Linked DNA regions of Homo sapiens: region 1 is linked to region 2. The links come from fine-mapping of genetic effects on gene expression. Tissue or cell type: monocytes after R848. Region 2 holds a variant in brackets; the other region holds the start of a gene. All regions are shown on one strand. Distances are from middle to middle.

The links. PIP is the estimated chance that this variant, and not a neighbour inherited with it, causes the effect.
Region 1: DDIT4L starts here. The variant in region 2 is fine-mapped to the expression of DDIT4L in monocytes after R848 (Quach 2016, PIP 0.95).

Annotation. Positions count from the first base shown.
Region 1 is chr4:100,188,521-100,194,889 of GRCh38, reverse strand. DDIT4L (DNA damage inducible transcript 4 like) reads left to right here and starts at 4,422. Exons shown (of 3, transcript NM_145244.4): 1 at 4,422-4,587; 2 at 4,858-4,997. The coding sequence starts at 4,907. DDIT4L-AS1 (DDIT4L antisense RNA 1) reads right to left here and starts at 4,857. Exons shown (of 5, transcript NR_125924.1): 1 at 4,816-4,857; 2 at 1,841-1,924; 3 at 1,048-1,144; 4 at 891-967.
Region 2 is chr4:100,002,669-100,010,627 of GRCh38, reverse strand. The region is part of intron 1 of H2AZ1-DT (H2AZ1 divergent transcript); the gene reads right to left. Among named protein-coding and RNA genes, the nearest start is that of H2AZ1-DT, 56 kb to the right of the region's middle. The variant A/C (reference allele first, on the strand shown) is at 4,281.

The sequences.
Region 1 (6,369 bases), 190 kb before region 2:
AACTGAATCATTCTGGACTAGTCAAATTTCTTAACCTTAATGTGCTTTAAATCTGCAGAATGGAGATCAGATCCCATTCTAAAAAGTACCCTGCAGAATTCCATATCTAGTCGACACTCAGGCATTCTCAGATTTAATTCTCTTCTTAAGCAACCCCACAGGTTTATGTCATGAAGTAATGTGTAATTTTGCTAGGATACAAATGTCAATGACAAAAGCTGTGCAAGGCTGGCCCACCAAAATAGGACACTTGGTTGATACAGGAAGGGAAACCAGTAAGGAACCCAACATTGACATGAGCATGTAGCTTTATTTTCCTCATCTCCTGGTGCACATTAAAATTCCAGAAAAAATGGTATGGCATAGTGGTATTCTCAAATTTGGAACTTGTAAAAGTTTTAAGATGTATCGCTAGACAAATGTCAAGGACCCACTCCATGTTCCTGGCTGACATCCTCTGATATGGTCACCTGAATTATACATTTTTCCATAATTAAGGAAAAGCAGATATTGTATGCATTTAAACATATTATCTCTATTTAAAGACTGATAATACACAGCATTGTTTATGAAGAGAACAAAATCATATAACTATATTAAGAGACAAGTTGCTATGGTAACCATTTCTCTGCTTAAAAAGAGAGGCAAACCCTTGTGTTATTGGAAGATTCTCTCAGCTTTTAATAGCAAGCATTATGTATTATTTTATGTATTGGGCCTGCTTTTTGTCTTATACGAGATAAGTTTCCATGTTACCTTACTTAACAGAATAAGTCATATTGAATATTTAATAATTAAATGGAAATTGTATTGGGTGATGCACCCTCAAAGGCAAATAAAAATTATGATTAAATATCTCACCGAGTATGTTAACAGATGATCACACATACCTTGAAACAACTGCGTCATTCTATAGTCAATAGTTTCAATTGTCTGTAGATGTTATTTATTTCCAGAAAACTATTTCCTAGATTAATAGAGGAAAGTTAACATATAAAACTCTGTATTTTACACCAAGATAATTTTTTACCCACATTATTTTCTTACGTTTCATTGGCAGATCCTTTCCTGCTTTCCCATACAGTGATGGATGTATTATAATAAAAAAGGCTTTCCTAATCAGTGCCAATACTTTCCAGATTTCCTGCAAACAGGAAAGATCATAAATTTTCTTATACTTTAACAACACTTCCCCAACTCCATTTAGCCACTTGCTTGTTGCACTGACCCAGATAACTACAATTTCAGAACATAATAACAGCAATAATAATAATATCACTCATTAAGTTCTTGCCTAATATCAGTATTAGTTTGGTTCTAAGCACTTTGCATGAGACACCAAATTTACAAACTTAGCACAACTAAGGGAATCTAGAGGCAGTGTGCATTTAAAGATCTCATATTTGTTTATAAAAAAGAGATAATATTTAGCATTGATTTTAAGGGTTTCTCTTTTAATCCTTACAATAACCCCATGAGCTTACTGCTAATGTATAGATCAATTTCCATGTCCTGTAAGTTTTCCCTGAATTGCACAGATTAAGAAACTCAGTAACTTTCCCTCAGGTGTCATAGTTTATGAAATAAAATAAGCTATGTGTGGAACGTAAATGTATTAATAAGATTCAAAAATAAGTGTTCATACCAAATAAAGACAGAAAATTGGCTAGTGAAACACGTAATGAACATTCAACACTCCAAATCACAAATGCAAAAGACACCAACATTTCCTGTAATAATACATGAAAGCATCATTTTTGCTTTTTGTTTTTTCAGTATCCCTGGCATTGTGAATTTATACTTTACATAAGCAATGACATTATGAATACTATATTTATACCTGAGGAAGCCTAGAACTTAAATATTTGCAAATACATCAGATGAACATATGGTTGCCAGTTGTTACTGCTATCTCATTTTCTTTCTGTAAGAAGATGGATTAGTGAATTATAGTAATAAAAAAGCAAGCATGCTTAAGTTAAAGCCTTTGCCTATGATTTAGATAGTTTCTTATAATACATTGGTGTATGAAAGGAAATCAAATTATTTAACTGACTAGATTTTCTATTCATACACAACTATTTCCAGTAAGCACTCCCACAAACTGTTTATATAGTATTAGTTAGAGGATATAATGAAAGAGCAATAAAACAAACTTCTTTATCACTGCACTTAATAAACACCTGAAGTTCCCCAATGCGAACTTTCAGTTATAAATAATTGACTGTATCCACATTTTTCTGAAATCTGATAGACTGTGTCACCTTGCACTTAGCCTATAATGGCACTTAGTTTTTCCTAATTCTTCTCTATGCTTCAAATTTTTAAAAAATCAGTTCTGTTTAACCTTGTGAAGATGCAAACTGGTGATAGAATGGATTTTCTACGCTTTTAAGTAGATAAAAAAGGACATTCTTAATTATTCCAGGTATGTGTTTTACCTCAATCATTCCTTATGCCCTGTATGTCCTGAGAGCAAGGCCCATTCAGCCAAGAAGATATTATTTGAAGTCTTTTGTACATAAGTAAATTGTTTTCTGAAGTCAAATCCCAAAGGGCTTTGCAAAATTTCATTTAGTCAGGTGGGCCAAGAGCAACTACTACTTTCTGTAAGTTCCAATAATCTTTCTGGCCCTATGGGGGCATTTACTCTATGAATTATGCCTAAATACCCTAAGGAAATTGAAACGAGTAATTTCTTTATTTCGCTAGTATTGGTTCAGACCACTCATTATATTAATTCTAAAAATCCTCCTTGGAGGCAGGTTAAGTGGCAGCCTCATTAGTAATGCTGCCCAGACAAGGACAAGAGGCTCTGTGGCCTGCCCAGGGACTGACTGTCAGGCGGCTGGCATCCAACTCCTGACCATGGGCCCATCCATTGGTCCTGAACACCCTAGCCACTGAAACCGCTTTTTAATTGGCTTAAATGGGCTTGTTTATTTTCCACTTTTCTGTTTATTGAAGTAGAAGTGGAAACTGGCCTTCAAAGACCAGTCTATCAGCATCTCCTTCCTTGGCTCGCCTGACCTTCAGGCAGTGCAGCTGCCTGAACTGAGTTAAAAATGGACTGTCAAGCTGGCTTTAATTTCTGCTGCTCTGCGTCCGAATGTCCTCCCACTGATCTGTTTATCACACCCTCTATACCCCTTCTGTTGTTGTTTTTCTAAGAGTTTTATGCCAGGACAGCTGAAACTGCCTTTCAAGGTTCTAACCTGCAAATCCTTCTACACATAATCCTAGAGGGCCTGGGAGCCAACACTGGGATCTCTACTGTAGGAACAACCTTCTCCCTCCAGGCATCCCCTAACGCACCCCAAGCTGACTCTCTGAACAGATCATCTCCTACTGGCACACCAAAGCGAGAAAACCGTGGCTTAATAACTTTGGAAGAAAAAAATCAGGTTTGGCTTCTTGCTCATGGGCTATGCGGGCATGTTGCCTCTTTCCAGGGCTCCTCTGCCTCTCTGTGTGTTCCTGTGCAGGACCGCACGGAGCCCTCACAGGGATTATCTGCTGATCCCCAGCAGAATATAAAACTCTTTATCTTCAGTCTCTGAAACCTCTTCAAAATATCCCAAACCAAAGATCCTCCCAACAGGGCTCGCCAGAAACTTCTGCCTCCGGAAATGACAGTTGCTCTCGATGCACGGATAGAGGAGTACCTAAGATCCTACTAATGGTATTGTGTGTTTCTTGGCAAACTCCCGCTCAATTCAAGCTCCCCGCGCTCTGGGGCAAGGTCTAATTAGAAGAGTGCCAGGCTCACCCTTCCTGCGAAGAAAACGCATTAGCCACAGATGTAAGTGCACGAAGAATGCCAGGGAGCCACGGAGTGCGTGGGGTCATTAAGGCCCTTCTTAAAATGCTGGCGAGCCTTCGATGCGGGAAAGGAAAACTAGATCTGACCGCTTGCAGCAGAGGAGGATACAGAAACCCTGGGAGGCAGAGTAGAGTTGACTGGGTTAGAGGCCAGAAATAAGTGCATAAATGATGCTCAGTGGACGTTGCAACAGATTTAAGCCAAGTGTTCAGGATGACACAGCAAAGCCCCAGGACAAGGAAATGCACAGATCGCTTAAAGCTTCCCGCTGCCGGGAGCAGCCTGAGTGTGAAAGCGCGGACGCTCGGGGAGGGGTCGCACTGAACAATCAGGTTCAGGCTTTGACGAGTCGTGCACCCGGAATTGCGGTCCCAGTGGCCCGAGATCTACCCTGGAAGCAACAGGTGTCCGCTCTACCACAGGCTTATCCTCAACTCCCTGTGGCTAGGCTCGGGCTCCCTGGAAGTGTAGAGGTTGAAAGGGGACCAGACTCTGGAGGGGAGGGGCGGGGCGCTGGCCGGGGAGGGGCGGTGCAGGTGGGCGGGCCTGAGCAGGGTGGGGACTGGACCTATAAAGTTCTCGCTGCCCCGGAGGCTATGCTACTGCGAGGAGCCGGCGCAGGGTGGCCCGGGAGGGGTGAGCAGGGTGCCGCTGGCTGCTGGGGTCTGCAGGTCACCGAGTCCCCAGGAGAGGGGACTCCTAAGAAGCCACCTGCCTGTGTTTACCCGGCAGCGAGCGCGCAGGCCCCCGCGAACTCCTGGCAGGTGAGCGAAGCTGCGGCCTTGGTGGGGGCAGCGGGGCCGGGGGGCGCTCCGCGGGGCAGGTCGCTTCCAAGTTTTGCGAACTGTTGAGTTAGTTTCAGGTTGCGGCTCCGCTCCCAGGGCTTTGTCAAATTGAGTTGCAGAGGCCGGTTCCACCCCTTTGGCAAAGGAGTTCCTCCGCTAGTTCGCTCCCGGGACGCCGGGCATTTTAGGAGCCTCTGCACGACTCGCCTGCTTTTGCAAATCCGTCTCTTCTCGCCTCATTTTTTCCAGCGCTCAGGAAAGGCCGTTGCGCCTCGCGAAGGAAACAGAGCCGTTGACCATGGTTGCAACTGGCAGTTTGAGCAGCAAGAACCCGGCCAGCATTTCAGAATTGCTGGACTGTGGCTATCACCCAGAGAGCCTGCTAAGTGGTGAGTGTCCCCGCTGTCCACCCTTCTCCCCTCCCAAGGTCGGTGCCTCTGGATCTATTGGGTGGGCGGGCTTTCGACTTCCTCCCCTACCTCTATGTAGGAGGTGCCACAAAATCCATCTGAGGAGACTCCTTTCCAAATTTTCTAACATCTTCTCTCCATGATAGAAACAAAAGTAGCAAAAGTAGAATACCCGAGGGCTGCATCTTTCTAGTCTGGTGCCAGTAGGCCCCTTGGGATTAAGTTCCTTATCTTACATGATTGTGAAGAACACAGTTATGTGTGTTTTAGCAAATGTATTTACCCTGTAATCAATATCGCCCCTCCCCCTGAATTCCGACGCACCTATTTGCCAGGTATTCCTCACTCTCCCCTGACTCCAGGGAACTACTGATCTGATTTTTATCATTCCAAGTTAGTTTTGCCTTTAGGTAAGTGGAACCATACAGTAGGTATTCTTTTGTGTCTGGTTTCTTTCCCGCAGCCTAATGTTTTTGAGATTCTTTTATGTCCGTTGCTTAAATCAGTGTGTTCGTGTTTATTGTTTATTACTGAGTAGGATTTTCAGTCGTGGATATATCCATTATTCCATTTTTAATGTGAGAAGGAAACTGTTGAACAGCAGCGGTGCTTGACTTGCTGTCATTTGGAATTTTAACAGCAGTTTCTAGGTGAACACACTGCTCTGACACTAAAGAGCTGTAAGAGCATAGATAAACTGCTTAAGCTCTTCGTGTTTTTCTCCTTTCAAGGTGAAGTGGTTGATGACCTAATTTACAGGCCAGAACTCCAAACTTACACGAAGTGGAGAGGAAAAGCCAGTGGCTGATGAAGGTGGAGTAGGCTTAGAGAGAGGAGCTGGGAGGGCATCTGCCTGCACCTTGTTCATTTGACTCCGTGTGGTGTGGCATCCTGCCAAGGGGTAGGATTAATTTGAGGTGTAGGTGACCAAATGCAGAGCTATCTCTTTTCCTTTGAGCCCAGCTAATTTTATTTCCCTAGGACTATTTTGTTTTGCTTGGCTAAGAAAAACCACCCAGCCGGTTACAAATATCCTCATGAACCTCAAAGGTCTTCTCTGCACAATTTTTAATTAAAGAGGCTAAAGCTAAAATTGGGACCTACAGGCCACTCCAGTAAAGACTTAAAGACACAAATTTGATAGATCTTTAATATAACTCTTAAAGCTTTAATACAACTCTTCAAACATAATAGTAAAAATTCTTTATTTTACAATACATGTATTCCTACAGTTAGAAAGTAACAACCCCTTAGTCCAAAAAACAAAGTTATAACTTTTTATTCCAGAAGTAATGCATGTTTTCTGTAAAACAAAATTAGAAAACCCCCATAAGCAAGTAGGAGAAAAGAA
Region 2 (7,959 bases):
AAATGGAAGTTGTTTTCAGATCTGAACCAAAGACCAGAATTCCATTGCATTGTTTTTAAGTCAGCGGAAATCTAAACCTCTTAAGTTTCAACTGAGGGACTAAAGGGAGATTAAAATCTTTCTTGTTGTATCTCTGAAAAAATATTCAAGATATTGCTAATTGTGGTTGCCTCTAGGAGGAGGATTGGGTGGATGAAGGTTAGGATAGAGGGATTTCTGATTACTGCATAACCATTCAATTTTGTACCACATGCATATATTACTATAACATTTTTTTACAAGTGCTATATGTGGCCAGGCATGGTGGTTCACGCCTATAATCTCAGTATTTTGGGAGGCTAAGGCAGAAGGATCTCTTGAGCCCAGAGGTTTGAGACCAGCCTAAGCAATATAGCAAGACCTCATCTCTGCAAAAACTAGAGAAAATTAGCTGGGTGTAGTGGCATGCACGTACAGTCCCAGCTACTTGGGAGGCTGAGGAGGGAGGATTGCTTGAGCCCAGGAAGTCGAGGATGCAGTGGACCATGATCGTGTCACTGTACTCCAACCTGGGCAACAGAGTGAGAGCTTGTCTCAAAAAAAAAAAAAAGCTATATATGCAGATTTATCTATAGTCTTATAATCTTCATATATTTAAACTCTCACTCAGACATCAGTGCTGTCTGTTAGCACAACAATTACAGTAGTTTAGTAGTTTCTGTTTAAGAATATTCAGTAGAAACTCAGGTTCTACATTTATACATTCCCTGGCTTTTTATTGTTGTTGTTTTTATGAGCTTCTCTCTAACTTCGTGAGTGTGAGTGTGTGTGTGTATGGGTGTGTGTACACAGCTGGGAGCTGAATTTTTATGCTCCTTAAAAATCCTTCTAGTTTTATTTCTTTGAGAGATATCAAGGAATGGCAATGCCTATTAGCCATCAAGTAAGAGAAAAGGAATGCAGAGAGCATAGTAGTGTACTTAAATGGAGCTGTGGAGAATAATATAAATCAAAACTGTCATTCTTGAAGAGCCTAAAGTTGTACTTCTAGCTGCCACAGATATCTAAAATAAGAATTAATCTGCACATTTTTATCTACTGATAAATACATTGTTTTTATTTGGCCACCACAAAATTGCTAGCATTCCCTCTTTTCACCATTTCTGTAACTCCTATCACTTTTATTTACCTGTATTTAAATAATCCACTCTTTAATACCTTAGGGTAAGAGTATGTTAAAATATGAGTGAGCTGGTTGAGAACTCTACTAACATTATAACATGATTTTTATTCCTTTCATGCAGCATTTCAATTTTTAAAAAGCTTTATATTTTCAATATCAAACTTAAGCTAATTTTTAAAAAGAAACGTTAACTGAAATTGATAATAGTCCTTCAATTTTTCAGCCAAATTTATAAAAATCAGACTGTGTTTATGTGATTTCTAGCAACTGGCTAAAAAATTGGAAAATGTAAAACTAGCTATCTGGTGTCAAGTAATTATTTTTGCTGAATTTTGATGAATTATTTACCTCTTGGGTTAATGTGTATTTTAAAATCTATTAACTGGTTAATTCAGGAAGTCCAAATTTGTGTGTACATATAAAATTTTGAGAGTTGTTTTGTAAAAGCAGAGATTCTCAATATTACCTGTGCTGGTCTCAAACTCCTGGCCTCAAGCAATCCTCCCAGCTCGGCCTCCCAAACCTACTGGGGTTACAGGGGTTAAGAGTTTTGTGGGGTTTTTTAAATGTATGATAACTTTGAATAAATTTATCTTCAATACATTTTCCGGGAAAGCTAAAGTGCTTCATCTACAAACACTTAAATCTAGAGCAGGGGTCCCAACCACTGGGCCACAGACTGGTACCAGTCTATGGCCTGCTAGGAACCCTGCCGCACAGCAGGAAGTGATCAGCAGGGCTACAGAGCTTTACTGCCCAAGCTCCACCCGCTGTCAGATGAGCAGCAGCATTAGATTCTCATAGGAGTGCGAATTCTATTGTGAACTGTGCATGCGAGGGGTCTAGGTTCACACTCCTTATGAGAATCTAATGCCTGATGATCTGATACTGTCTCCCATCACCCCCAGATGGGACCCTCTAGTCACAGGAAAACAAGCTCAGGTCTCCCACCAATTCTACATTATGGTTTGTATAATTATTTCATTATATATTACAATGTAATAATAATAGAAATAAAGTTCCCAATAAATGTAATGTGCTTGAATCATCAGTCAGTGGAAAAATTGTCTTCCAGGAAACCAGTCCCTGGTGCCAAAAATATTGGGGACCACAGATCTAGAGCATTACAGAAAAACACAATGTGGTTGCTGTTTTTATGTAACTATGACTTACAAGTAGTAGCATTCCTCCCTCTTGCCCAATTCTGTCTTGTGTCTTGGAATTGAACACTCACCTCCCATTTATTCCATGAATTCGAAGAGTGTGTCTTGTACTTCTGGGGCAGATTTGTTCCAAGGGTGTGTACATCAGTTGCTTGGGTTCTTCCTTGCTGTTTTTGAGGCATCAAGAGCAGCAGCATCTTTTTCTTCCCCTGCTGGCTTCCCTGTTCTGTCTTCCTCAGTAGTAGAGGACTTTTGTTTGTTATGTCTGGCTTGGTAGGGACTCTCCAGGGGTCCCTTATTCTTCCCTTCCGCTTCCCTCAATTCCTATTCCCTTTCATCCTCTCTCCAGGTCCAGAAGCTGGTTTTCCTCTTCTGATTTATGCCTGAGGCAAAGCAGCTGTCTTTTAAAGATAAGAGCCAGAAAATAGATATCAAACAGACATAAAGAATAACATAGGAAAGACAAGAAGTCCCTAAAAATAGCTTTGTCATTAGCTGTTTTTATGCTGAACACCTAGATTTATTTCCCATTGTCCTTTTGCTTGAACAAACCAAGTCAGTCAAACTACCTCACCTGATGAGAAAGAAAATGGTGAAAAGGAAATCCTCTAGGCCAGGCTGATTTAACCAAAGTAATATAATATGAAAAGTGTCTAACTTGAATCTTCTTTTTTGGTAAATATTAAAATTATAGCGTAACCACAAAGGAAGAGTTTGGGGATACAAACAAAGAATAGGATAAAAAGACTTACTGGAAGAAAATGAACTGTGAATACCAAGTAAAATGAGAAGTAAAGAAAGCACATGCATATAATATATATATTTAAATAAACATGCATAAGAAAGCATGAAGCATAGTATGATTTTATATACTACATATTCACGGGAGGATCGAGGAGGAGAAGTCAAAGTTGAATGGCTGCACTCATTGAGCAGGAGAAACCCTGAGATTCCAAAGAATAAGGTAAATTGTCAGCTGCCACTGCCACCTCTATGTTTCCTTTTGGGAGCTGTGGTCCCAGAAGAGGCAGATGTAGAAGAGAGCCTTTAGGATGAGGATGATGGTCCCAGTAATGCTTTGCTTCCCTGGATATTCCTCAAGGGTAAAATTGCATCACAAATGTATATGCATCAAGAACTAATGTAACTGTTTCATCTGTAGGAAGTAAATTACAATGTAGTAAAGAGAAAAGTCAATGCATACTCTGCATAGGGGTTATGTGCATGGGTTTCAGTGTCAGACAGGCAGTGTTAAGACCCTAGGACATGTAATCTAGAACCTTGTTACACAATGTATGATCCACAAGCCAACAGTGTTGGCCTTGACCTGGGAGCTGATTAAAAATGCAGAATCTCAGGATTCACCCCAGACCTACCAAGTCAGAATTTGCAAATTATCAAGACTCTTGGGTGATTCTTTTGCACATAAAGTTTGAGAAACACTGGTCTAGGGTAAGTTTCTTAATCTATTCATGTCTCAGCTTTCTCATTTCTAAAATGGGCATACTAGTACCTACTTCCTAGAGTTGTGGGAATTAAATGAGGAATACATGTAGAGAGATAGCAAATTTCCAATAACTGCTAATGAAGACAAGTCATAAAATATGGTTCAGGATTTTGAAATTGAATTCTATGCTCTGCTGCACACACAATTAAATTTAACTAAAGCTGAGTTTTAATTATAAATGCTAACTGACTTTTATGACCATTTCTCCAAATGAAATAGTCACTTAAAAATGAGTAGATTCTGGAGGAGCCAAGATGGCCGAATAGGAACAGCTCCAGTCTACAGCTCCCAGTGTGAGCGATGCAGAAGACGGGTGATTTCTGCATTTCCATCTGAGGTACCGGGTTCATCTCACTAGGGAGTGCCAGACAGTGGGCGCAGGTCAGTGGGTGCGCGCACCGTGCGCGAGCCGAAGCAGGGCAAGGCATTGCCTCACCTGGGAAGCACA[A/C]GGGGTCAGGGAGTTCTCTTTCCGAGTCAAAGAAGGGGGTGACGGACGCACCTGGAAAATCGGGTCACTCCCACCCGAATATTGCGCTTTTCAGACCGGCTTAAAAAACGGCGCACCACGAGACTATATCCCACACCTGGCTCAGAGGGTCCTACGCCCACAGAATCTCGCTGATTGCTAGCACAGCAGTCTGAGATCAAACTGCAAGGCGGCAGCGAGGCTGGGGGAGGGGCGCCCGCCATTGCCCAGGCTTGATTAGGTAAACAAAGCAGCCGGGAAGCTCGAACTGGGTGGAGCCCACCACAGCTCAAGGAGGCCTGCCTGCCTCTGTAGGCTCCACCTCTGGGGGCAGGGAACAGACAAACAAAAAGACAGCAGTAACCTCTGCAGACTTAAGTGTCCCTGTCTGACAGCTTTGAATAGAGCAGTGGTTCTCCCAGCACGCAGCTGGAGATCTGAGAACTGGCAGACTGCCTCCTCAAGTGGGTCCCTGACCCCTGACCCCCGAGCAGCCTAACTGGGAGGCACCCCCCAGCAGGGGCACACTGACACCTCACACGGCAGGGTATTCCAACAGACCTGCAGCTGAGGGTCCTGTCTGTTAGAAGGAAAACTAACAACCAGAAAGGACATCCACACCGAAAACCCATCTGTGTATCACCATCATCAAAGACCAAAAGTAGATAAAACCACAAAGATGGGGAAAAAACAGAGCAGAAAAACTGGAAACTCTAAAACGCAGAGCGCCTCTCCTCCTCCAAAGGGACGCAGTTCCTCACCAGCAACGGAACAAAGCTGGATGGAGAATGATTTTGACGAGCTGAGAGAAGAAGGCTTCAGACGATCAAATTACTCTGAGCTACGGGAGGACATTCAAACCAAAGGCAAACAAGTTGAAAACTTTGAAAAAAATTTAGAAGAATGTATAACTAGAATAACCAATACAGAGAAGTGCTTAAAGGAGCTGATGGAGCTGAAAACCAAGGCTCGAGAACTACGTGAAGAATGCAGAAGCCTCAGGAGCCGATGCGATCAACTGGAAGAAAGGGTATCGGCAATGGAAGATGAAATGAATGAAATGAAGCGAGAAGGGAAGTTTAGAGAAAAAAGAATAAAAAGAAATGAGCAAAGCCTCCAAGAAATATGGGACTATGTGAAAAGACCAAATCTACGTCTGATTGGTGTACCTGAAAGTGACGGGGAGAATGGAACCAAGTTGGAAAACACTCTGCAGGATATTATCCAGGAGAACTTCCCCAATCTAGCAAGGCAGGCCAACATTCAGATTCAGGAAATACAGAGAATGCCACAAAGATACTCCTCGAGAAGAGCAACTCCAAGACACATAATTGTCAGATTCACCAAAGTTGAAATGAAGGAAAAAATGTTAAGGGCAACCAGAGAGAAAGGTCGGGTTACCCTCAAAGGGAAGCCCATCAGACTAACAGCGGATCTCTCGGCAGAAACCCTACAAGCCAGAAGAGAGTGGGGGCCAATATTCAACATTCTTAAAGAAAAGAATTTTCAACCCAGAATTTCATATCCAGCCAAACTAAGCTTCATAAGTGAAGGAGAAATAAAATACTTTATAGACAAGCAAATGCTGAGAGATTTTGTCACCACCAGGCCTGCCCTACAAGAGCTCCTGAAGGAAGCGCTAAACATGGAAAGGAACAACCAGTACCAGCCGCTGCAAAATCATGCCAAAATGTAAAGACCATCGAGACTAGGAAGAAACTGCATCAACTAACGAGCAAAATCACCAGCTAACATCATAATGACAGGATCAAATTCACACATAACAATATTAACTTTAAATATAAATGGACTAAATTCTCCAATTAAAAGACACAGACTGGCAAGTTGGATAAAGAGTCAAGACCCATCAGTGTGCTGTATTCAGGAAACCCATCTCATGTGCAGAGACACACATAGGCTCAAAATAAAAGGATGGAGGAAGATCTACCAAGCAAATGGAAAACAAGAAAAGGCAGGGGTTGCAATCCTAGTCTCTGATAAAACAGACTTTAAACCAACAAAGATCAAAAGAGACAAAGAAGGCCATTACATAATGGTAAAGGGATCAATTCAACAAGAGGAGCTAACTATCCTAAATATTTATGCACCCAATACAGGAGCACCCAGATTCATAAAGCAAGTCCTGAGTGACCTACAAAGAGACTTAGACTCCCACACATTAATAATGGGAGAGTTTAACACCCCACTGTCAACATTAGACAGATCAACGAGACAGAAAGTCAACAAGGATACCCAGGAATTGAACTCAGCTCTGCACCAAGCGGACCTAATAGACATCTACAGAACTCTCCACCCTAAATCAACAGAATATACATTTTTTTCAGCACCACACCACACCTATTCCAAAATTGACCACATAGTTGGAAGTAAAGCTCTCCTCAGCAAATGTAAAAGAACAGAAATTATAACAAACTATCTCTCAGACCACAGTGCAATCAAACTAGAACTCAGGATTAAGAATCTCACTCAAAGCCGCTCAACTACATGGAAACTGAACAACCTGCTCCTGAATGACTACTGGGTACATAACGAAATGAAGGCAGAAATAAAGATGTTCTTTGAAACCAACGAGAACAAAGACACCACATACCAGAATCTCTGGGATGCATTCAAAGCAGTGTGTAGAGGGAAATTTATAGCACTAAATGCCTACAAGAGAAAGCAGGAAAGATCCAAAATTGACACCCTAACATCACAATTAAAAGAACTAGAAAAGCAAGAGCAAACACATTCAAAAGCTAGCAGAAGGCAAGAAATAACTAAAATCAGAGCAGAACTGAAGGAAATAGAGACACAAAAAACCCTTCAAAAAATCAATGAATCCAGGAGCTGGTTTTTTGAAAGGATCAACAAAATTGATAGACCGCTAGCAAGACTAATAAAGAAAAAAAGAGAGAAGAATCAAATAGACACAATAAAAAATGATAAAGGGGATATCACCACCGATCCCACAGAAATACAAACTACCATCAGAGAATACTACAAACACCTCTATGCAAATAAACTAGAAAATCTAGAAGAAATGGATACATTCCTCGACACATACACTCTCCCAAGACTAAACCAGGAAGAAGTTGAATCTCTGAATAGACCAATAACAGGATCTGAAATTGTGGCAATAATCAATAGTTTACCAACCAAAAAGAGTCCAGGACCAGATGGATTCACAGCCGAATTCTACCAGAGGTACAAGGAGGAACTGGTACCATTCCTTCTGAAAGTATTCCAATCAATAGAAAGAGACGGAATCCTCCCTAACTCATTTTATGAGGCCAGCATCATTCTGATACCAAATCCGGGCAGAGACACAACCAAAAAAGAGAATTTTAGACCAATATCCTTGATGAACATTGATGCAAAAATCCTCAATAAAATACTGGCAAAATGAATCCAGCAGCACATCAAAAAGCTTATCCACCATGATCAAGTGGGCTTCATCCCTGGGATGCAAGGCTGGTTCAATATACGCAAATCAATAAATGTAATCCAGCATATAAACAGAGCCAAAGACAAAAACCACATGATTATCTCAATAGATGCAGAAAAAGCCTTTGACAGAATTCAACAACCCTTCATGCTAAAAACTCTCAATAAATTAGGTATTGATGGGACGTATTTCAAAATAATAAGAGCTATCTAT